2 separate regions of the Homo sapiens genome follow, and region 2 is linked to region 1. Evidence: fine-mapped expression QTL. A gene starts in region 1. The other region holds a variant in brackets. All regions are shown on one strand. Distances are from middle to middle.

Region 1 (12,719 bases):
CAGACTCAAGTGATTCTCCAGCCTCAGACTCCTGAGTAGCTGAGACTACAGGTATGAGCCAGCACAGTGCTGGCATCTGCTTCTGGTGAGGGCCTCAGGTGGCTTATGATCATGGTGGAAGGTGAAAGGGGAACAGGTATGTCACATGGTAAGAGAGGGAGTAAGAGAGAGAGGCGTGGGTACCAGGCTCTTTTAAATAACCAGCTCTCCCATGAACTAACAGTGAGAACTCACTCATCACCAAGGGGATGGCACCAAGCCATTTATGAGGGATCTGCCCCCATGACCCAAACACCTCCCACTAGGCCTCACCTCCAACACTGGGGGTCACATTTCAACATGAGATTTGGAGGGGTCAAACATCCAAACTGAGATTTGGAGGGGTCAAACATCCAAACTGTATCAGTCACATAAACGATTTTTAGCCTAAGTTCTTGGGGATTTGGGGGTTCCTCTTTTTTGTGAACAATTCTGAACTGACACCTGGATTTCTTTCTTTTTCTCTTTTTCTTTCTCTCTCTCTCTCTCTCTCTTTCTTTTTAACTTATTTATTTTTAGAGATGAGGTCTCACTACATTGCCCAGGCTGGTCTCAAACTCCTGGCCTCAAGTGTTTTGCCTGCCTCAGCCTCTCAAAGTGCTATGATTACAGGCGTGAGCCACCACGCCCAGCCTGGCACCTGGATTTCTTAAGAATGCATCATCATCTACATTTCAGGCTACTTACTAAAAAAAAAAGATGGTTTATTCATTCTGGGCTATATCTCTCCTGTAAATATCTAAAGTATACTTTTTAATTTGGTCAACACAATCCACATATGAAGTTGGGCTTACAGATAGAGTAAGAATGAAACACTGGGTAAATCTGGTCAAGACTTGGTCCCCCCAGCGTGTGCAATCTTATGGGAATAATAGATAAGAACATACATAAATACAGAAGCATATTTTCATGCCTTTTAAGCATAAAACAATGATGTTTGGGTTGGTATACCAACCAAATCACCAAATGTGACTGACTGTTTCTAAAATGTTGATTCATCCTAGCAGGGTGAAAACTAGTGGTGGGGGTAAAAAAGACAATGCTAGTCCAAAATCAGTTTCCAGAGGGGTCCCGACGTGGCTGAGTCACAGCAGCACCACTGAAATCAATGTATAGCCTCTCCTGATTTAGAACACTGCATTATAGAACAGAAAGATTATTTTAAAGCCAGACACGGTGGCTCACACCTGCAATCCCAGCACTTTAGGAGGTGGGAGAATGGCTTGAGCTCAGGAGATTGAGGCTGCAGTGAGCTGTGATCATCCCACAGCACTCCAGCCTGGGAAACACAGTGAGACTTAGTCTCAAAACAAATAAAAATTTAAAAAAATTTTTAAAAACCACCTAAGATGTTTTCTGTGGTTTGAGCTAATAAAATTCTAAAGATTAAAAGCCACTTACAATGGCTTTCATATTTAAAAATGTTATTCACCTCATCAGAGTTAATGTAAGTCTTTTCCCTGACATAACAATCAAGCTAACTCATACATACACAGACAGATAGGCAAGTTACACAAATGGCCTCATGGATGACACTCTCGAGTGTTTAGGGATAAAATATAGGTTTACGTCCCAAGTATAGTATATATTACATAAGTAACTTCAAATCTCTATGTCTCAATTTCCTCATTTGTAATTTTGAGACCGGTATTTGTCAAGGTTGCTATGAGAAGTTAGAATCAAATTATGGAAAGTAGCTGGGCATGGTGGCTCACACCTGCAATCCCAGCACTTTGGGAGGCTGAGGTGGGTGGATCACTTGAGGTCAGGAGTTCGAGACCAGCCTGGCCAACACGGTGAGACCTCATCTCTACTAAAAATACAAAAATGAGCCAGGAGTGGTGGCACACACCTGTAGTCCCAGGTACTCTGGAGGATGTGGCAGGAGAATCACTTGAACCTGGGAGGCAGAGGTTGCAGTAAGCCGAGATCGTGCCACCGCACTCCAGCCTGGGTGACAGAGCGAGACTCTGTATAAAAAAAAAATACCCTCTCTATTAAAAATACAAAAAGATTAGCCGGGTGTGGTGGCAGACACCTGTAGTCCCAGCTACTCGGAAGGCTGAGGCAGGAGAATGGCGTGAACCCAGGAGGCGGAGCTTGCAGTGAGCCGAGATCACGCCACTGCACTCCAGCCTGGGCGACAGAGCGAGACTGAGTTTCAAAAACAAAAACAAAAAATTATGGTTGGCACCTAGCATCATACCAGGCACACAGGTGGCACTCAACAATTGTTGGTTTCTACATGTCCTTTATAGCTATAGTATCTGTTAGTAGTAGAAACCACTGTTAATTTTAGGGCCCTAAAAGGAGTAATGTCTTCTCAAGTTCCTTCCAAAAGAGCAATTGCTATTTAGTAAAAAATAAACACCAACTGCTCTTTCAGAAGGAGCTTCAGAAAGGTAGAAGGGTCAACAGTATAGAATACTTACAAAGAACTGGAATCAATTAAGAATGCAAAAACAGTCAGTAGATGTATAGAGCACTCTTGACATAAGTAACTCCATCTTAGAAAAAGACTCCTATCTTTCATTTCAAAAAGCACTTTGACAACAGGGACCAGATGTTTTTCCAGATAAAGACACAACCAAGCATGCTCTTCCACTATCAGTCCTTACCAGAAGACTCTGTGACCATAAAAAGAACAGGACTTAAAAAACTCAAAATGGTCTTAACAGACACTGTCTTGCTGTCACTTGTTATAAAAGCCTGATATCTGTGTCCAAAGGCTCTGCCCACATCAAGGATTCTTTCTTACAAGACCAACACACTGCCATGATGAAACCAGGATACTTGTCTATATCACTCTCCCCGGACTGGTTAGGTAACCCTTTTTCCTCACCCTTTTCTCTTGATGTTCAATGTTACTTTGTTGCAGAATGTTTAATCTACATCATTTATGTATTAATTAGGTATACTATTATATATGATTTACAATATTGACTGACTACCTAGTGAATGAGAAGTACTAATAAAAATTGCCTCCTTGAGAACTCCATGTAACTTGTCTTTTATAACTGAAATAACACAATAAAAGTCTGACATTGTGAAAAGACACAAATGTGTGTGTACCTGGTTATCCATGACCTTAAACCATTCACAATAGTAGATTAAGCTGTTAGGAAGTCAGAGTTGACCTTTGGAAGAACAGTTCCAGTGGTCAAAGTAGGATGAGGAAAGGCAGTACGTGCAGAATATATATATATATATATATATATATATATATATATTGTTGTTGTTGTTGTTGTTTTGTTTTGTTTTGGTTTTTTTTGTTTTTGAGACGGAGTCTTGCTCTGTCGTCCAGGCTGGAGTGCAGTGGCGCAATCTTGGCTCACTGCAAGCTCCACCTCCCGGGTTCATGCCGTTCTCCTGCCTCAGCCTCCCGAGTAGCTGGGACTACAGGCGCCTGCCTCCATGCCCGGCTAATATTTTGTATTTTTAGTAGAGATGGGGTTTCACCGTGTTAGTCAGGATGGTCTCGATCTCCTGACCTCGTGATCTGCCCGCCTCAGCCTCCCAAAGTGCTGGGATTACAGGTGTGAGCCACCACACCCGGCCCAGAATATTCTTTAAATAAGCTTAGCACAAAGGGAAAGAGAACAGGCAGAGGCTGAAGAAGCTACCAGATTCCAGATCAGATTGGTATAGTTTTCTGATGGGACAGACCTGACCATGTTTGAGGGCTGAACAGAAGCAGATACTAGGTTAAAGCTATAGGAAAGAGATGAAAATTACTGGAGCAAAGTCCTGGAAGAAAACTGGCCATGGGCTGGAGGGGAGGACAAAGATTGAAGGTAGCAGACACTGAATATGTCTATTTTTCCTCTGAGACCAGCAGAATGTAGAAAACACGAGTACAACTGTAATTGGAAAAAACTGAAAAAACTCATCCCAAGTAGGTTCTATTTTATCTAGAGAGTAAAAGGTAAGATCATCTGCAACAAGTGAAGGGAATGGGTGGAGATGGCCATGAGGCAAGAGAACATTTCAATTCCCTTAAATTTCTAAAACTAGGTATAAGTGCTGTATTTGCAAGAATATACTTGAGACAGAAATGAATAATTATGGTCTTACTACAACGTTCCATTATGCTAGATGCTCCACAAATATAATCACATTTACTTCCCACAAGAACCCAGTTAAGTGAGGCATTGTTATTGTCCCTGTTTTATAGTTCGATTGATGATGGCATTCATAGTTAAGCTTTACTACAGAACCTTTTTTTTCAGCTATTATGCCATATTTGCTTCTTAAAAAATTAAGTTATACAATACTATGTATGACGATATAATTTCATTAATCGTTTTTGATTCAGGCATAAACAAAGTTAGAAAAGTAATTCCAGGCCAGGCGCAGTGGCTCACGCCTGTAATCCCAGCACTTTGGGAGGCCAAGGCAGGCGGATCACCTGAGGGCGGGAGCTCAAGACCAGGCTGACCAACATGGAGAAACCCCGTCTCTACTGAAAATACAAAATTAGCCAGGCGTGGTGGCACATGCCTGTAAACCCAGCCACTCGGCGAGAGGCTGAGGCAGGAGAATCGCTTGAACCCAGGAGGCGGAGGTTGTGGTGGGCCGAGATTGCATCACTGCACTCCATGCACTCCAGCCTGGGCAACAAGAGCGAAACTCCATCTCAAAAAAAAAAAAAGAAAGAAAGAAAGAAAAAGAAAAAAAGAGAAAAATAGGCAACAAGTGAAAAAAAGAAGTATCTTTGTAGATTAAATAGAAATATATTACCACTATTGCCAGTCACTCTCTCTATAGCAGGAGTCAGAAAACTATGGCCTATGGGCCAAATCCAATCTAATATCTGTTTTTGAAAACAGTATTTTATTGGAACACAGCTCTGTCCATTCATTTACTGTCTACAGCTGATTTCACACGACCATGGCAATGTTGGGTAGCTGTGACAACGGTACACAAAGCCTAAAATATTTCCCATCTGCTCTCTTTAAAAAGTTTGCCAATCTCTATGTTCTTTTATAGCACTTAACTGTATCTAAAATTATTCTACTTATTTTTTATTTATTCATTTATTTTTTATTGTTTTTTTTTTTTTTTCTTGAGACGGAGTCTTGCTCTTGTCACCCAGGCTGGAGTGCAATGGCACAATTTTGGCTCACTGCAACCTCTGCCTCCCAGGTTCAAGTGATTCTCCTGCTTCAGCCTCCCGAGTAGCTGGGATTACAGGCGCCCACCACCATGCCTGGCTACTTTTTGTATTTTTAGTAGAGACGGGGTTTCACCATGTTAGCCAGGCTGGCCTCGAACTCCTGACCTCAGGCGATCCGCCTGCCTCAGCCTCCCAAAGTGCTGGGATTACAGGCGTGAGCCACCGCACCCAGCCTATTCATTTATTGTCTGACTCCCCTATTGCAATGCATAGTTCATGAAGAAAAAGACCTTCTCTACTGTACTCCTTGCACCTAGAACAGCGTGTGGCACATAGAATGCACTCAATAAAGGTGTTTAATGAACATTTATTGCAAGAAGGAAGAGAAAAACATTTCCCATCTTCTCACTTTCTTCTCTTAGATGCACTCCAACTATTTCCCCCACCACTCCACCAAAACTGGTCTTTTCAATTAACCACTGGATTTATCAACATGATAAATTCTCAGTTATTTCTCAGTCCTCACCTTACTTGACCCATCAGCAGCATCTGACCCAGCTGGTCTACTTCCTTCCCCAGAAACACTTTCTTCACGTGGCTTTCACTCTTAGTTCTTAGCTTCCCTCCTGCAGTACTGATCCATCCTTCGTTTGTCTCCTTTGCTGGTGCAATCTTATTTTCTCGGCCTCTTAATGGTTAGCCTGCTCCAAGACTCAGTCATTGAGATTCTTCTGTCAGTCCATACACACTTCCCTAGTGAGCTCATCTAGTCTCACGACTACTCTTAGGCATTTCAAACTCCTCCAAAACCAAAGCCAAATTTATCATTTCCCCCAAAACCTTCTCCTTCACAGCCTCTGCCATCCCAGTAAATACCACCATCCCTCCAGTTACTGAAGCCAAAAACTCTTGGAGTCAACCAACCCTCATTTTATAAATATATTCCAGGTCAATGATCACTTCTACCATGTCTGCTACCACCCGGATCCAAGTCACCATCATCTCTCGCCTGATAATTGCTTGTCCCCTGTTCCCTTACATTCTACTCTCAACACAGCAGCCAGGGTGATCACGTTTAAAGGTAAATCAGCAAGTTCAACAGCTAGCCAGAGTGAAAGTCTCACACAATTTGGCCCCCTGAAACCTATTTGCCTCTTTGTTCCCTCCACTCCGGAAACACAGGCCTCCATGCCCATCTTAAAGCAAGTCACGCAAGCGTCCATCTCAGCCTTCATGCTGGCTGAAAGGCTCTTCTGGCTGAACTGAATGAACCAGGCTTCCTGAATTAGGCATTTTCATGAAATGCTGTGTCACTTAATTCTCTAAACTCTGTGAGGTAGGTATCACTTCCCCCACTTTACAGATTAAGAAAGTAAGGTTTACAGGGCATCTAGCTAACAAATGATGGAGTTAGGGTTAAATCCAGATTAGTCTACAGAGAAGGTGAGCTCTCAGTGAAGTTTCTGGAGGCTAAACAGAGGATTCAGTGATGTTCCTCTGAAGTCACAGTGATTTTAACAGCTAAAGGTGTGTGCTAACAACTGGTGAAGAATATGAGAAAAGGCAGTCAAAGAGATAAAAGAACCACAAGAGGAGTCACCCAAGCCAAAAGTGGAAAGTTTTAAGGAAAAGAGGGGAGAGGGGAAGTGTCAAGTGGAACCTAGACACCAGAAGCCCAAGAATCAAGCGTATACCTCATAACAAACCACACTTGTGGTAGACAGGAACCCAGATCTTGATTTAGAAAGAAAGAAAAAAAAGCCAGGCACAGTGGCTCATGCCAGCAGTTTAGGACGCCAAATCGAGAGGATCGTTTGAGGCCAGGAATTCGAGACCAGCCTGGGCAACACTGCCAGACCCCAAAAATTTTTTTTAAAAATGTAGCCGGGTGTGGTGGCTCACACCTGCAGTCCCAGCTACTCAGGAAGCTGAGGTGGGCGGATCGCTGGAGCCCGGGAGATCGAGGCTGCAGTGAGTCGTGATCGCGCCACTGCACTCCAGCTTGGGCAACAGAGCAAGACCCTGTCCGGAAAAAAAAAAAAAAAAAAAAGGATCTATCTTCTCCTGCCAATAACGGTGCCCAGAGCTATCCTACTAGGTATTGCCACTTGCCCGCGGCAAGCGTGAAGACAGGCTGTAGGGAAGCATGTGACTAAGCAACACGGCTTCACACCTACGTTCTCCTCCGGGCCAGTAAAGCAAAGTGTGTGAGTGTGCGGTGGTAGCCTGACCTTAAACTTCCCACGGCAAAGATGCGGACCCTGAGCGGGCACGTGTGAACACGGCTCTCTACCCCGCAGTCTCTAGGAGACCAGGAGGTGGCGGAGTCTCGGCCCTTACCCCGAATTCCTCCAACAACTTTCCGCCAATGGCCCATTCCTCTCTGCCCCACAGTCATGACAGTGGACCCCAACCCACACTACCTCCCTCTCAGACCCATCCCTCAGGCATATCCCGGGACTGGCCCCCGAGAAGCCTTATAACCCGTTGCGGCCCGGGCGTAAAGACCCCGTCTCACCACGGCTCCGGCCACGGCGTGGACCAGGCTTTCGTAGGACAGCACGGAAGCCATTGGTGCGGCTCCTCGAAGACCCAGCCACACTTTTCCCACAGATGCCGCAGCCAGTGGAGTTAGGAAAGGAGCACCGGAGCTCAGGGTGTGAGAGTCGCAATCCCCGCCCTCTCAAACCCGCCCGCCTGCCCTAGAACCACTTCCGGGTCGCGGGGCGGGAAAGCGGGGGGGGGGGGGCGGCTAAGAACGCCCCTGAACGCTGATTGGCCCCTGTGGGCGCGGGGCGGGACAGCGAGGTGTTCGCGGGGCTGGGCTCCAAGGCGCAAGGCGGCCTGACACCAGGTACCCGGCTCCCGGTTCCTCCGACGTTCTCTGGCGTTCCCGGGCCCTGACCAGTTCCTCCATCTCAGAAGTCTTAATGGCCTTCTTTTACTCTGGTGACAAAGATGGGGAAACTCAATGAGACTCCAGTCTCCCTGTTTCTCTGCGCCTGAGCTCTTTTCTATTCTGAAAGTCACATTTTGGCCAAGAGGAAAAAAACTCACTTGTGGACTTGGAAACTTCTTCCTCCAGAAAAACCCTTGAGTGTGGTGGGAAGAGATGTTGAGCATCAGGAGCCCAAAATACAAGACGCGAGTGGGAGCCTCCCCCTAGTTGGCAACTATGGAAGTCATTTAACCTCTTGGGTTTCCTCTGTGAAATGACAATGTACTAGTACCAACAATCCCCATCTGCTGTGAGGATTACGAAAGCCAATTTATGTAGTAGTACTTCATAAAATACTGAAGGAAAAAAATTTTTTTCCATGTTGCAAAGTGACTAACAAAATTACACAAAACTAAAGCAGCCACATTCAGCTTTAACCTGTCATACTGTGAGATTCTGCTTCAGGATGCTCCTCAGGGACTCAGGGATTCTTTCCTGAGACACCATCACCACTTGTCTTTACCATGTTTCCTTTTAGAATATCCTCGTGATAACTCCTCAGTGCTGACTACATGCCAGGCTTAGTGTTTTATGCCCATCATCACACTTAATCCCTGGGAGAGGGGTCTAACAAAGTTTAACCTGGCCGTTTTCACAAAATTTGCAGAAGATACTGCTTCCAGGAACATTCCCATCACGCCATAGAATCATGACGTGAAAGTGAAGGACCAAAAGTGAAGCGAAGATGATTTTGGGCTGGGCGCAGCGGCTCAGGCCTGTAATCCTAGCACTTTGGGAGGCCGTAGCGGGCAGATCACTTGAGGTCAGAAGTTTGAGACAAGCCTGGCCCATATGGCAAAACCCTGTCTCTATTAAAAATAGAAAAAATTAGCCGGACATGGTGGCACGCGCCTTGTAGAAATTACAATGTTGAAACTGCAGCTACTAGGGAGGCTGAGGCAGGAGAATCGCTTGAACCCAGGAAGCAAAGGTTGCAGTGAGCCAAGATTGCACCACTGCACTCTAGCCTGGGACAGAGTGAGACTCCTAAAAAAAAAAAAAAAAAGATTATTTTGGCATGGGAACATAGAAACTAGTTGGCTGTAAAACTTGAGAACTCAGTTCTCATTGACTCCTGATCAAATTGGGAGCTTGCTGTCAAGAATATACTGGATTATGCATCATAGTTATGAAAACATTGTTAATACTTTGTTTTGACGTTTTTGTATCTTACATACCAAAAACATTTTGATCAGCTTTTTTTTTTTTTTAAACCTGAGACAGTGTTTCTCTGCGTTGTCCAGGCTGGTCTTGTACTCCTGGGCTCAAGTGATCCACCTGCTTCAGCCACCCAAAGTGCTCGTATTACAGGCATGAGCCACTGTACCGGGCCTTGCAACCTTTTTTTTTTTTTTCAGATGGAGTTTCACTCTTGTGGCCCAGGCTTGGCTCACTGCAACCTCCGCCTCCCGGGTTCAAGTGATTCTCCTACCTCAGCCTCTCGAGTAGCTGGGATTACAGGCATGCGCTACCACGCCCAGCTAATTTTTGTATTTTTAGTAGAGACGGGGTTTCATCATGTTGGTCAGGATGGTCTCAAATCTCTTGACCTCGTGGTCCGCCCGCCTCGGCCTCCCAAAGTGCTGGGATTACAGGTGTGAGCCACAGCGCCCAGCATGATCAACTGAAGACTGACATACTGAAAACAGTATTTTTTTTTTTTTTTTTGAGACGGAGTATCGCTCTGTCACCTAGGCTGGAGTGCAGTGACGCGATCTTGACTCATGTTAGCCTCCATCTCCCGGGTTCAAGTGATTCTCCTGCCTCAGCCTCCCGAGTAGCTGGGACTACAGGTGCACGCCCCCATACCTGGCTCATTTTTGTATTTTTAGTGGAGACAGGGTTTCACCATGTTGGCCAGGCTGGTCTCGAACTCCTGACCTCAGGTGATCCACACACCTCGGCCTCCCAAAGTGCTCAAATTAGAGGTGTGAGCACTGCACCCAGCCAAAGTCATTTTCATATAATCAGTATGCACTGAAAAACGTAGACACTGCATAGCTACATCAGTTATTAACTGGAACTATGAAGCTGTGATGTTCGAGACACACACATACATACATATATATATACACGTATATATATATATATACGTATATATATATACGTATATATACGTATATATATATATATATATATATACACACATATACGTATATATATATATATATTTTTTTTTTTTTGAGACAGTTTTGCTCTTGTCGCCCAGGCTGGAGTGCAATGGCGCAACTTCAGCTCACTGCAACCTCTGCCTCCCAGGTTCAAGCAATTCTCCTTCCTCAGCCTCCCGAGTAGCTAGGACTATAGGCATGCACCACCACGCCTGGCTAATTTTTGTACTTTTTAGGGACAGGGTTTCACCATGTTGACCAGGCTGGTCTCGAACTCCTGACCTCACCCCCCCCCCCACCCCCTGGCCTCCCAAAGTGTTGGGATTACAGGCGTGAGCCACCGTGCCCGGTTGAGACATAATTTTTAAAAATTATAACTTAGTTGAGCACAGGGGGTCATGCCTGTAATCCCTGCACTTTGGGAGGCTGAGGCAGGAGGATTATTTGAAACCAGGAGTTCCAGACCAGCCTGGACAACAAAGTAAGACCTCATTGCTGTTAAAAACAAACAGATGGGCATGGTGGTGCATGCCTGCAGTCCCATCTACTTGGGAGGCTGAGGTGGGAGGATTGCTTGAGCCCAGGTCAAGGCTGTAGTGAGCTGCAATTGCATCACTGCACTCCAGTGTGGGCAACAGAGAAAGATTCTGTTTCAAAAAACCTAAGGATTGTAATTTTTGGCTGCTTTTTTCGTTCTAAACAAGTATCTACTTGTGTGTCCAATTTAGTGTTCATAATTACATTCTTTTCCTTAAAGAGGGTCCTTTGAATTATATAAGCATCATACCCCTTGACACTACATAAAGTATATAAAAAATTTAGGGCCATTCTATATACACCCATGCTATAAGAATTAAAGGAACCTAGCTAGTACTTGCCATTTCGTGTATGTTGCTTTTACACTGGCTTAAGTATGGTCAGGTTACTTACCCTGCAATCTAAAAATGTCCCAGTGATCTGTGTGAGTAAACTACTTAATTATGTATTAGATGCCTAGATTTTCAGAGCACCACAGACATTTACATTAGTTCTACTTACCTCCTGGCTTCTTAGAGCCGTAATTTTAAAATTAGGATTTCACCAAACGTCAAAGTTTTTATTTATTGCTAAACAACTTTATAGAAAACCATAAACTTACACTTCCACCAGCACTATATGAAAGGTCTCACTGAAAAATTGCCAACTTGACATACTATTTAAATTTGCTTTTTAAAGCTCAGTTACTCACTTTTGTTGCCTATTTACTTTAGGACATTTTCCTCTCCAAACTGTATGAGCTCTATTAAGTACATTATATACTGGTTGTAAATACTGGCACATATTGAACTTTTTATAATTACTGTACTATAATTTTTACTTAGTTTATTCTTGCCCTTATTTGGGGGCTCGTCATGCACTTCAATTATGCTGTGTCCCTTACTATTAGGAAGAAACCCCCTGGATGTACACATCAGCACATCAAGTGTGTGACACTCCTTATTTAACCAACCTTATTCAAATGTACATTTTAGTTTTCAGTTCCTTAAACAATTCTGCAAGAATCAACCTTGTACACAGAGGCAGCACAGTACAGAGTTTGGGAGAAAGCCCTTTGAAGCCACAAACCTCTGTATTCAAGAATCTCAGCTTTACAAATAATCAGCTGTGTTATCCTGGGCAATTTACTTATTAAGTGCTTCAGTTTCCTTATCTATAAAATTGTAAAGTGGTGCTAACAGTATCTACCCTTATGGTCATTATCAGAATTGATCCAATACTTGCAAACTGATTATAACAGGGCTTGGCACAAACACTACTTACCTGTGCCTACTCAGGTGCATTAATTTTAGTCATCAGCAAATCTCTAAAATGAAATTGTTTCTCCTTTATCTTATCAAACTAGTATTTCCTAGTATGGTAGACTGCTAGGTGTCACCCCAAGTCGTCTTTCCTGTTTCTACTCTTAAGTTTTTTCTTGAGCATGTGATCACACAGTTATGGATGACAAACTGGCTTTCCCTGCAGCTAAACATAGCCTGAACACACAAACTGACCAATGGGATATTAGAAGTAATAAAATGTTAACATCATATATTATCTTCAGTATCTCAGCGTGTTTCCCAGAGCCCCCTTCTCCTATTTCCTCAATTGGAGAATGAGCACCAGAGCAAGCAACTTTGGACTAGAAATGGAAGCTACCTTCTAAGTATGGCAGAATGCCTGCCTCTGAACAGCTACCCAAAATAAAGTACATGTTTTTTAGGGGTTCTTGTTTGCAGCACTTAATAGTCTGCAGCCTAATATACCTAGTAAATAACCTGAGTACCAGAGACATAAAATAGAACATATGCTACAAAAAGTCGGGGGTGGGGGGGGAAATTAAAAACTAGTTTTTGTTTTTTGAGACTGTGTTTCGTGATCTCAGCTCACTGCAACCTCTGCCTCCCAGGTTCAAGTGATTCTCCTGACTCAGCCT
Region 2 (12,719 bases), 67 kb before region 1:
ACCTCCCTCCCGGACGGGGCGGCTGGCCGGGCAGAGGGGTCCTCACTTCCCAGTAGGGGCGGCCGGGCAGAGGCGCCCCTCACCTCCCGGACGGGGCGGCTGGCCAGGCAGGGGGCTGATCCCCCCACCTCCCTCCCGGACGGGGCGGCTGGCCGGGCGGGGGGCTGACCCCCCCCACCTCCCTCCCGGACGGGGCGGCTGGCCGGGCAGGGGGCTGACCCCCCCTCCCCCCTCCCGGACGGGGCGGCTGGCCGGGCGGGGGGCTGACCCCCCCACCTCCCTCCCGGATGGGGCGGCTGGCCAGGCGGGGGGCTGACCCCCCCACCTCCCTCCTGGGCGGGGCGGCTGGCCGGGCAGAGGGGCTCCTCACTTCCCAGTAGGGGCGGCCGGGCAGAGGCGCCCCTCACCTCCCGGACGGGGCGGCTGGCCAGGCGGGGGGCTGACCCCCCACCTCCCTCCCGGACTGGGCGGCTGGCCGGGCGGGGGGTTGACCCCCCCACCTCCCTCCTGGACGGGGCGACTGGCCGGGCAGAGGGGCTCCTCACTTCCCAGTAGGGGCGGCCGGGCAGAGGAGCCCCTCACCTCCCGGACGGGGCGGCTGGCCGGGCGGGGGGCTGACCCCCCCCACCTCCCTCCCGGACGGGGTGGCTGCCGGGCGGAGACGCTCCTCACTTCCCAGACGGGGTGGTTGCCAGACGGAGGGGCTCCTCACTTCTCAGACGGGGCGGTTGCCAGGCAGAGGGTTTCCTCACTTCTCAGACGGAGCGGCCGGGCAGAGACACTCCTCACCTCCCAGACAGGGTTGCGGCCCAGCAGAGGCGCTCCTCACATCCCAGACAGGGCGGTGGGGCAGAGGTGCTCCCCACATCTCAGACGATGGGCGGCCGGGCAGAGACGCTCCTCACTTCCTAGATGGGATGGCGGCGGGGAAGAGGCGCTTCTCGCTTCCTAGATGGGATGGCGGCCGGGCAGAGACGCTCCTCACTTTCCACACTGGGCAGCCAGGCAGAGGGGCTCCTCATATCCCAGACGATGGGTGGCCAAGCAGAGACGCTCCTCACTTCCCAGACGGGGTGGCGGCCGGGCAGAGGCTGCAATCTCGGCTCTTTGGGAGGCCAAGGCAGGCGGCTGGGAGGTGGTTGTAGCGAGCCGAGATCACGCCACTGCACTCCAGCCTGGGCACCATTGAGCACTGAGTGAACGAGACTCCATCTGCAATCCCGGCACCTCGGGAGGCCGAGGCTGGCGGATCACTCGCGGTTAGGAGCTGGAGACCAGCCCGGCCAACACAGCGAAACCCCATCTCCACCAAAAAAAAACGAAAACCAGTCAGGCGTGGCGGCGCGCGCCTGCAATCGCAGGCACTCGGCAGGCTGAGGCAGGAGAATCAGGCAGGGAGGTTGCAGTGAGCCGAGATGGCAGCAGTACCGTCCAGCTTTGGCTCGGCATGAGAGGGAGAGGGAGACGGGAGAGGGAGAGGGAGACGGGAGAGGGAGAGGGAGACGGGAGAGGGAGAGGGAGACGGGAGAGGGAGAGGGAGAGGGAGACGGGAGAGGGAGAGGGAGACGGGAGAGGGAGAGGGAGACGGGAGAGGGAGAGGGAGACGGGAGAGGGAGAGGGAGACGGGAGAGGGAGAGGGAGACGGGAGAGGGAGAGGGAGACGGGAGAGGGAGACGGGAGAGGGAGAGGGAGACGGGAGAGGGAGACGGGTGTTTGTTTGTTTTAAGTAGGGTTTGTTTGGGCCAAATTTGAAGACTGCAACCCAGAAGACATAGATTCAAGTTGCCCTGAATATATGCTTCAATTAGCAGCAGCTATACATGGGTTTTTAAAGGAAAAAAGAAGGGGTAGTTCTTACACTGGTTCATTAAAATAACATAAGCTATTGATTGGCTATACATTTTTTTTTTTGTATCACAAATTCTAGGAACATGAAGATAATGGGTAAGGGTCACATTCTGCAACTTGTGATAACATTTTAGGTCATTTATCAGCTAGTCTGGAAACTACAGGTAAGGAAAGAAAGAAGAAAATGCTTTTAAACAATTGCCTGGGTGCAGGTATGTATGTGTGACTGAAGTATACTCATGACTCGCTGGGTGTGATACATTTTGCAAACCTCACATAGCTCAGACTGCTCTAAGCTACTTCTCATTCTCAATGTACAGGGATTTCTTCCCACATATAACCAAGCAATTATTATTATTATTATTTTTTAGACAGTCTTGCTCTGTAACCCAGGCTGGAGGGCAGTAGTACAATCTCAGCTCACTGCAACCTCTGCCTCCAGGGTTCAAGCAATTCTCCTGCCTCAGCCTCCTGAGTAGCTGAAATTACAGGCGTGCACCACTATGCCTGGCTAATTTTTGTATTTTTAGCAGAGATGGGGGTTTCACCATGTTGGCCAGGCTGGTCTCGGACTCCTGACCTCAGGTGATCCACCTGCCTCAGTTTCCTAAAGTGCTGGGAATACAGGCATGGGCTACTGTGCCTGGCCCAAGCAATTCTTTAGCAGAGTCTCCCGTGGACAACAGCTGGGTGTCCTCCAATTCAATAACATCACATCTCACACATTGAGTGCTCAGTTCCACAAGACTGCCTGTCACTTCAGAGGTCAATTGCAACCCTCAGGTTGTAACCTGATCTTCTCACTGGCTGGCTATAAATCAGGGCTCCCCTCCACCCCCTCTTTGAGTTTGATTAACTTTCTAGAGTGGCTCACAGAGCTCAGGGAAATCATTTACATGTACACATTTATTTTATAAAGGATATTACAAAGGATACAGATGAACAGCATGATGAAAGAGATACATAGGGCAAGGCATGAGGGAGGGGGATGAACTTTCAGGCCATCTCTGGGCACACCACCCTCTAGACACCTCCACATGTTCTGCAATCCAGAAGCTCTCTGAATCTAATCATTTTAGTTTTTTTTTTTTTTTTTTTTTGGTACGGAGTTTCACTCTTGTTGCCCAGGCTGGAGTGCAATGGCGCGATCTCGGCTCACCGCAACCTCCACCTCCCGGGTTCAAGAGATTATCCTGCCTCAGCCTCCCAAGTAGCTGGGATTACAGGCATGTGCCACCACGCCAGGCTAATTTTGTATTTTTAGTAGAGATGGGGTTTCTCCACATTAGTCAAGCTGGTCTCGAATTCCCAACCTCAGGTGAGCTGCCCGCCTCGGCTTCCCAAAGTGCTGGGATTACAGGTGTGAGCCACCATGCCTGGCCCATTTTAGGTTTTTATAGTCTTCATTACGTAGGCTCGATTGTGTGAAAATAAGTAATTCAAAATCTAAGTGATTGTGAAAGCAGCAAGAGACAGACAAATTCCTAGGCAGACAGAAACAGGTCCCCGGTGAAACCCAACCTTCAAGCCAAAGACAGCCTGCAGCCTGAAAAATGGGCTGCCCATTCCATATAGAGTCCACAAGTGGAGTAAGAACTTCCTCAATGCCTTTTTAGCCAGTCGAATGGTGCTTTTTCCAGGCCTGCCCATGGACCAGTCAGCATGCACGCCCCCATCCTGAGCCCATAAAAACCCTGGACTTAGCCACATGTTGGGACTACCCACCTTCAGGCCCCCTCTTACACAGAGGGCTACCCACCTCAGGTCCCCTCTCATGATGAGAGCTGTTCTGTTGCTCAATAAAAGCTTCTCTGCTCTGCTGACTCTCTGGTGTCCATGTAACCTCATTCTTCTTGCACATGAGACAAGAACCTGGGACCCACTGAACCATGGGTGTGAAAGGAGCTGTAACACTGTAGCCCACCCATCCTCTGCCAGTGTCGGGCGGCCATCCCACGTGACAGGAAGAGGCGGCGGTGGGGCTGGGGCAGCCCAGGAACCTCAGGCCAGAGTGGGGCAGCAGGATTGACGCCCCGTTCACTGAAGCATGTGGATGGCAGGAACTAATGAGCCATAACATGTCCTCCCGTTTGCCACTGGGAGGCAGGAACAAACATAAGCTGTAACATGAATGAGCTGTAAGACGCTCCCCACCACCACCATTTGCTGTGCTGTAGGCAGCAGGAAGGAGAGAGAGCTCTAACAGTCCTTGGGGGCTCACACCTCAGGACTCCCCAGGTGAGAGCCATAACACCCCTTGGGGCTCTGTGGTTGCTGGCATCTCCAAGTTTTCAGGTGCTGCTGTGTCCCCCTCGTCCAGACACCGGTGCCCAAGGTGGAAGACAGTCATGACATGCCTGGACCAGCTGCGGGCTGAGTGCAGAGCCACGACGGGTGCAGAATCTGGGCTTGTAGCATGAACCAAGCACAGCCTGCTGGACTGAGTGGGGAGAGTAAGCCCAGTGGTGAGCCCGGAGCCAAGCGAGGCCCGGGTAGGGGTGCCCCCAGCCATGAAGATTTCTGGCTGGTGAGGTGGCACTGAAAGAATCCTGTGTCAGTTGGAAGTTTAAAATATTTTGAACCTTAAGGGAATGTGATTATGGGACCTGAGTGTCATAATCAGGCAGCTATAACCTAGGCAGCCAGCTGTAACTTATGTTTCTCTGATTATAGAGTGGCCTTCTTCCTTACCTACATTGTTTTGTAAAATGTTGTAAATGACTAAAGAGCATCAGGGACCCCTTCCCTCTTAACTGTTGATTTTCATTTTAGATTAACCTCCCTCTTTTCCTTCCCACACAAAGACTCCGCGACTATCACATTATCTAAGATAGAGTGTCAAATACACACCTTTGAATTGGAAAGGAAATGAAAACAAGTTGTAAAGAAAAGGAAAGCTGTAAGGAAAAGAAAATAAACTGCAACTAATTAAATTGTAACTCATACACCAGTCTGATATAGAAAATGTTATAATCCTACTAAATTTCTTTATTTTCAGCCAATACAAGCAAGACCTTAACTTTTAATTTTGGAGCACTGACCCCATTTCTCTGGAGTCTATGTTACCCAGATGACTGTTCCCAGCTTTTTGCTTGAATATACTCTCTAAAACTGGATGCTGATGCTTTTGGTTATTTCAGGATGACAACTGATTATATCATTGGCCACTGATGATCAACTCCACTTTCTCTCTCCTCCCTGGAAGTTGGGGGTGGGGTGTGGACTGAAAGTCCCAACCCTCTAATCCTACCTTGGGCTTTCTGGTGACCAACCCCCATCTTGAAGCTATCTAGGGGCTGCCAGCCCCATCAGTCACCTCATCAGCATACAAAAGATACTCTTATTACTCCTCTGACTCCAAGGGTTTTAGGAGTTGTGTGCCAGGAACCAGGGACAGACACCAAATATATATATCTTATTATGAATCACCATATCAAAGAGGTAAATAATTATAAGATACTACTCAAATATTCTTTAGCCTATCTAATTTTCAAAAAGAGATGTTAAGAGTTCCACATGATTAGTGGATTTGTCGATTTCTTTTTTTTTTTTTTTGAGATGGAGTCCTGCTCTGTCTCCCAGGCTGGAATGTAGTGGCCCGATCTCAGCTCACAGCAATCTCTGCCTTCCGGGTTCAAGAGATTCTCCTACCTCAGCCTCCTGAGTAGCTGGGATTACAGGCATGCACCACCACGCACAATTAATTTTTGTATTTTTAGTAGAGACAGGGTTTCTCCATGTTGGCCAGGCTGGTCTTGAACTCCTCACCTCAGGTATCAACCTGCCTCAGCCTCCCAAAATGCTGGGATTACAGATGTGAGCCACTGCACTGAGCCGGATCTGTCAATTTCTTTTAGTAATTCTGACCATCTTTGTATTATGCATTTGAATCTATGTGATTAAATGTATTAAATAAAAATTACAGGATGTTATTGTTTTGGACTAAGTTTCTGCTCTTGGATCCAATGGACAAGATCAAAAATCAAAACGGACTCACCTATGCCAAAGTTCCACATCACTAAACCCAAACCAAGTTGACTGACCCTCCCCAAAATCACAAATAATTTCCCAAACAGGCCAGTTTAAATCTTCATTTGGCATGATAATGAAGTTCCCTCTGCTTTAGTCCTTACAGGAAAAAAGTAGCTTGATGTTTGCTAGTCAGTTATTTTTCTATTGTTCTGTCTCTCTGTCCCTGCCTTATAAGAAACATAGCTTTGAAATCACCAATATGCTCTTTGCTCTTTGCTTCTGCTTTCTGTCTTTGTTTTTTTGAGACAGGGTCTTGCTCTGTTTTTCTTTAGCTGTTCTGTCTATAAAGCCAACCTCTTCTGTTGCCCAGTTCTAGAACTGCCAAAAAGCTAGTTAACTGGGAGTGGGGTGAGGGGGAGAGGACTAGAAGACTTAAAAAATAATTTTATTTATGATATAATAATACTGTATACCTGACAGTGATTCATCCAGAACAGAGCTGAGAACCTAGGAAATAAGAGGCGTTTAAGTCACCAAACAAGGTATTGCACTTTATTCATAGGAAAATGTCCTCCTCAGTGTACTTGCTCTTGTTTTATAAAAACTTCTAAAAACTTTGTGGCTCTTTGGCAGTCTCACCAAATTAGAAATTGCCTATTAGAAGAGAATGTTCTCAGACGCAGGCATGTGAAGGTCAGAAAAAGTGTTAATTAACAGCTAGGAACAGGACAATATGTATTTGTTAAAAAAAAAAAAAAAAGATACAGAAATGCAAAAACACAGCAGTTTGGAGTGGTTCTTTGAAGGGACAAGCCGTCCAATAAGTTCCCAAAGGTATTGAAACTGCCTTTGGAAAATTATAACTGAGGAAATTGTGGCAGTGAAAGAAATCAGACCTAACTGACTCTATCTTGCTTCTAACCTTTAAGCTGTCCTTGTTCATTCCTGGACATAGGCCGAACTAGCTTTGGGAAGGAATTCAGTTCATGGTTTGACTCTGAAACAAAATTATTAACAGCCCATTCCTGAAAAGACCCCCTTCTTGCCTGGGGAGCAGTCTGCCTTTGCAGGACCAACAAATTAGCTACAAGATTAGAAATTACAGTTTAGGGGTCTTGTAGCCTCTGGCTCTAAGAGTCTGAGCCTCCCCAGACTGCTCCTCGGGATAACATCACTATTGTAAAACCTAAGATCAGTGCTTGAGATATTTTGCAGACCCTGTACTCCA[T/C]GGATCAGCTGACACCACCCAGACCTGTAATAAGGCTCAACCAGTTCTGCTATCCCACCCAGGAACAGAAAACAGCAAGAAAACCTCACTTTGACTCCCTATGATTCCATCTCCAACCTGATCAATCAGCACTCCCCACTTCCCAAGCCCGTGCCCCACAAATTATCTTTAAAAACTCCGATCCTCGAAGGCTCAGGAAGGCTGATTTAAGTAATAATAAAACTCTGGTCTCCTGCACAGCCAGCTCTGCGTGAATTACTCTTTCTCCATTGCAATTTCTGTCTTGATAAATTGGCTCTGCCTAGCCAGAGGGCAAGATGAACCCACTGGGCAGTTACAGTATCCCCACATTATGTGCCACCAGAGTGACACATCACAATGATGTCCCAGTGCTAAAGCAAAAACTGAATGATATGTATTATGTTTATTTGATTTTTCATTTTTTATTTTTATTTTTGGAGACAGGGACTCACTCTGTTGCCCAGGCTGGAGTGCAGTGGCATGATCATAGCTCACCGCAGCCTCCACCTCCTGAGCTCAAGTAATCCTCCTGTCTCAGCCTCCCAAGTAGCTGGAACTACAGATGTGTGCCACCACACCCAGCTAATTAAATTTTTTTTTTTTTTGTAGAGACAAGGTCTCATTAGGTTTCCCAGGCTGGTCTCAAACTCCTGGGCTCAAACAATCTCCCAACGTTGGCTTCCCAAAGTGCTGGGATTACAGGCATGAGCCACTGTGCCTGGCCTATGTTATGTTGAAAGTGGCCAAGGATGGGCCGGGTACGGTGGCTCACGCCTGTAATCCCAGCACTTTGGAGGCCGAGGTAGGTGGATCACCTGAGGTCAGGAGTTTGAGACCAGCCTGGCCAACGTGGTGAAACCCCGTCTTTACTAAAAATACAAAAAATTAGCCAGGCGTAGTGGTGGGCGCCATTAATCCCAGGTACTCGGGAGGCTGAGGCAGGAGAATTGCTTGAACCCAGGAGGCGGAGGTTGCAGTGAGCCGAGATCACGCCATTGCACTCCAGCCTGGGCAACAAGAGTGAAACTCCATCTCAAAAAAAAAAAAAGAAAAGAAAAAAGAAAAAAAAGAAAGTGACCGAGGATGTTTAGCTTTTGAGAATGATTTCTGTACAAAATGGTTAAAAGAAAACAAAGCAATAAGTCAAAACATTTTGGTGCATAAAGAAGTAGCATTGCAATGATGTTAGTGACACAGGATGATTTTGATGCCGCTTCGACACCTGGAAACATCCACGGCTGGCAGCAACTCTGTCCAGGCTTGGCTTGGCTCTGGGCTTACTCCTGGGCTCACTCCACCAGCTCGCCCTGGCAGGCTGCGCTCAGCTCAGGCTACCAACCCAGATCCTGTGCATGCGCAAGGATTCCGTGCTCAGCCTGCAGCTGAGCCAGGCATGCTGTGGACCATTTTCATGTTAGGCACCAGCTTTTAGATGAGGGGAACGCGGTAGCGGCTGAAAACACGAACATGCCAGCAACCATGGAGCCCCAAGGGGTGTTATAGCTCTTGCCTGGGATGTCCCAAGGTTTGAGTCCCCAAGAAATGACGCAGCTCTCTCTCATTCCTGCTGCCTGCAGCACGGTGAATGGGGGGCGTATTACAGCTCATTTGTGTCACAGCTCCTCCAGTCCCGTCGCCCGCAGCTTGGTGAATGGGGGCATGTGGTGCACAGTGGCTTTTTCTCCCCCTTTGCTCGGCGAGCAGGAGGGAGAGCTACAGTGTTACAGCTCTTTGCGCACCCACCATTTGGTGGGTTCCAGGTTCTTGTCCTGCAACCAAGAAGAATGAGGTTAGGCAGACACTGGAGAGCGAGCAAGGCAGGGAAGAATGTTATTGAGTGACAGAAAAGCTCTCGATAATGAGAGGGGACCTGAAGTGGGTAGCCCTGTGTGACAGGAGAGCCTGAAAGAGGGTAGCCCAATGTGTGGTGAGTCCACGGTTTATATGGGCTCAGAATGGGGGCGTACATGCTGATTGGTCTATGGGCAGGCCTGGAAAAAGCACCATTCAATTGGCTAAAAGGCATCAAGGAAAGTTCTCACTCCGGTTGTGGACTCTACCCAGAACTGGCAGCTCAGTTTGCAGGCTTTAAGCTGTCTTTGGCTTGAAGGTTGGGTTTCACCAGGGACCTGCCCCTATCTGCCTAGGAATTTTTCTCTCTTGCCACTATGATTAGGAAAACAATCTGTTTATGTAGTGCCACGTATTCAGTGCTGCGTACAGCGTAGGAGTTCAGTCCTACCGAGCCTGCTTGCAGGCAGTGAAACAATGCAGGAGCCGGGCACGGTGGCTCACGCCTGTAATCCCAGCACTTTGGGAGGCCAAGGTGGGTAGATCACCTGAGGTCAGGAGTTCGAGACCAGCCTGGCCAACATGGCGAAACCCAGTCTCTACTAAAAATACAAAAATTAGCTGGCCATGGTGGCGCGTCCCAGCTACTTGGGAGGCTGAAGCAGGAGAGGTACTTGAACCCAGGAGGCAGAGACTGCAGTGAGCCAAGATCGCGTCACTGCACTCCAGCCTGGGTGACAAAGCAAGACTCAGTCTCTAAAAAAAAAAGAAAAAGGGAAAAAGAAACAATGGAAGAACTCTATGAAAAATCCATAGCTAATGCTCAAAGGCAAAAGACAGGATGCTTTCCCCGAAGATCAGGAACAAGACAAGAAATTACATACATATAATGCAATAGAATATATAAACTGTCTTAGTTGGGTGACACTAATGCAAACCAAAAATAGAATTCTAAGACCCCCAATTAACTGAATGGACCCCTTCTCTCAGCCGAGGGGATTCCAAAGTAAACCTGAAAAACCATTTCAGGCCATGATAGGAAAAAGGTGTTGAACGTGCCTCATTATACTCTCCTCTTGGAATTCAGGCACAGCTGCCCAGCATTAACATTAAAACAGGGACCTTGAGGCCAACAAAACATACTCTTTGTAGCAATAAGATACCAAATTCCAACCTGATTCTAGTATAGCATCACATGACAGCCAGCAGGCCCTAAAATATTAAAGTATTTTACCCCCAAAATATATTTCTTTGACATATTTCTTTTTTTTTTAGACAGAGTGATGGAGTCTCGCTCTGCTGCTCAGGCTGGAGTGCAGTGGCGTGATCTCGGCTCACTGAAAGCTCTGCCTCCTGTGTTCATGCCATTCTCCTGCCTCAGCCTCCCAAGTAGCTGGGACTACAGGCGCCCACCACCACACCCGGCTAATTTTTGTATTTTTAGTAGAGATGGGGTTTCACCATGTTAGCCAAATCTCCTGACCTCATGATCCACCTGCCTTGGCTTCCCAAAGTGCTGGGATTACAGGCATGAGCCACCATGCCCGGCCTTCTTTGACATTTCTAAATGACCCTACAAAGTGGTCTCTTGTGGGGGAAATTTACATTCTCTAGAGAATTCTGGCCCCTTTCCAGGTCTTTTTCTGATCCTGAAGAGATTGGTTCAGAATCTAGCACCTTTTAGAGATCTAAACAGGAAACATTTGCCATCTATTGCCTCTAAGGGCACCCACCTGTGAGACTTCATCTATATAGTAAGAACTTTAGTCTCCACAACCCACCCCTTATCTAAACCCAGATACTCCTTTCTATTGATTCCAGGTGTTTTGTTTTGTTTTGTTTTGAGGCAGAGTGTCGCTGTCACCCAGGCTGAAGTGCAGTGGCAGGATCTCAGCTCATTGCAACCTCTGCCTCCAAGGTTCAAGCAATTCTCCTGCCTCAGCCTCCCAAGTAGCAGAGATTACAACAGGCATGCATTACAACACCCAGCTAATTTTTTTTTTTTTTTTTTTTTTTAGTAGAGACAGGGTTTCACCATGTTGGCAGGCTGGTCTCAAACTCCTGACCTCAGGTGATCCACCCTTCTTGGCCCCCAAAATGCTGGGATTACAGGTGTGAGCCACTGTTTCTGGCCGATTCTGAGTCTTAAGATAATAACTCTTTCAACAAATTGCCAATCAGAAACTCTTTGAATCCACCTAGGACCTGTAAGCTCCCCTCCCCAACCTTTCCGGGCTAAACCAATGTACAGCTGACATGTATTGATTGATGTCTTATGTCTCCCTAAAACATATAAAATCAAGCTGTAACCCAACCACCTTGGGCACATGTTCTTAGGACCTCTTAAGACTGTGCCTTGGGGGCTGGCACAGTGGCTCACGCATGTAATCCCAGAACTTTGGAAGGCTGCAGTGGGTGGACTGCCTGAGGTCAGGAGTTTGAGACCAGCCTGGCTAATATGGCGAAACCCTGTCTCTGCTAAAAATACAAAAAATTAGCCAGGCATGGTGTTGGGCGCCTGTAATCCTGGCTACTCGGGAGGCTGAGGCAGAAGAATTGCTTGAACCCAGGAGGCGGAGTTTGCAGAGAGCCTAGATTGTGCCACTGCACTCCAGCTTGGGCAACAGAGCGAGACTCCGTCTCAAAAAGAAAAAAAAAAATTCTCCCTAGTTTATGTTCTTTATAGCTCTTAGGTATGTCTAAAATCACTTTACTGGTTTATATGCTTATTGTCTGTCTCTTTCCATTCTAATGCAAATCCCATAAGACAAGAATCTTGTCTGTCTCATTTACATTTTATCCCTATTGCTTAGCAAAGTGGCTGGCACATGGCAGATCTTCAAAAATTATTTGTTGACGTCTTTTTAAGGGACAGGGTCTCGCTCTGTCACCCAGGCCAGACTGCAGTGGCATGATCGTAGCTCACTGCAGCCTCAAACTCCTAGGTTCAAGTGATCCTCCCACCTCAGCCTCCAGAGTAGCTCAGACTGCTGAAACATGCCACCATGCCTGGCTATTTTTCTTTTTAATTTTTTGTAGAGATGGAGTCTTGCCATGTTACCCAGGCTAGCATGGCTAGCATTCCTGTTTTGTTTTGTTTTGTTTTCCTTTTTCATGAGACAGAGTCTCACTGTCTCCCAGGCTGGAGTGCAGTAGTGTGATCTCAGCTCACTGAAACCTCCACCTCCCGGGTTCAAGCGATTCTTGTGCCTCAGCCTCCCAAGCAGCTGGGATTACAGGTGCATGCCACCACGCCTGGCGATTTTTGTATTTTTAGTAGAGATGGGGTTTCACCATGTTGGCCAGGCTGGTCTTGAACTCCTAGCCTTATGTGATCCACCCGCCTTGGCCTCCCAAAGTGCTGGGATTACAGATGTGAGCCACTGAGGCTAGCATTCTTGTTTTATTACACAGTACCTTTTCTACTCACAAGCTCCTGAGATCATGCATGTATTTCTCAGCTTCCTTCTGCCTAGACACGCCCACACTTCATTCAAGTCAGACTAAGATAGGAGTGCATCAACCATATGGTATTTAATATGGTGAAATTTCTAAGGCACTAAATCTTAGGGAAGCCATGTCTTTCTCAACACTGTAGCCCACCCCCCTCAATATAAACTCAATGGACAAATATTTACAGAATATTCATAGCAATGCCTGGTACTTAGCCATGTTAACGAGGATTCAGAGCTCTGAATCTACTTGGTTGAGCGGGTAGGTAAGTAAACAAATAAATACAATTTAATGCTGAAGGTGCTTGACAGAGCTTCACCCAGAGTATTATGTTCCAAAAACTAACAAAGACATACATACCTCCCAGCCTAGTCAATATAGTGTAAGACCCCACCTACAAAAAAAA

Which allele goes with the higher level. Alleles are on the strand shown, and positions count from the first base shown. SD is a standard deviation of normalised expression in the study named.
With allele T in place of C in region 2, the expression in ovary of the gene that starts at base 7,825 in region 1 is higher (moderate effect, 0.40 SD a copy in GTEx).

What was found.
Region 2: its variant is fine-mapped to the expression of SLC25A17 in ovary (GTEx, PIP 0.95).

What each region holds. Positions count from the first base shown.
Region 1 is chr22:40,811,522-40,824,240 of GRCh38, forward strand. It overlaps SLC25A17 (solute carrier family 25 member 17), which reads right to left and starts at 7,825. Exons shown (of 9, transcript NM_006358.4): 1 at 7,674-7,825. The coding sequence starts at 7,727. It overlaps MIR4766 (microRNA 4766), which reads right to left and starts at 2,437; the gene lies at 2,362-2,437. RefSeq lists an enhancer at 5,798-5,857.
Region 2 is chr22:40,744,921-40,757,639 of GRCh38, forward strand. No RefSeq gene overlaps it. Among named protein-coding and RNA genes, the nearest start is that of MIR4766, 63 kb to the right of the region's middle. The variant T/C (reference allele first, on the strand shown) is at 7,049.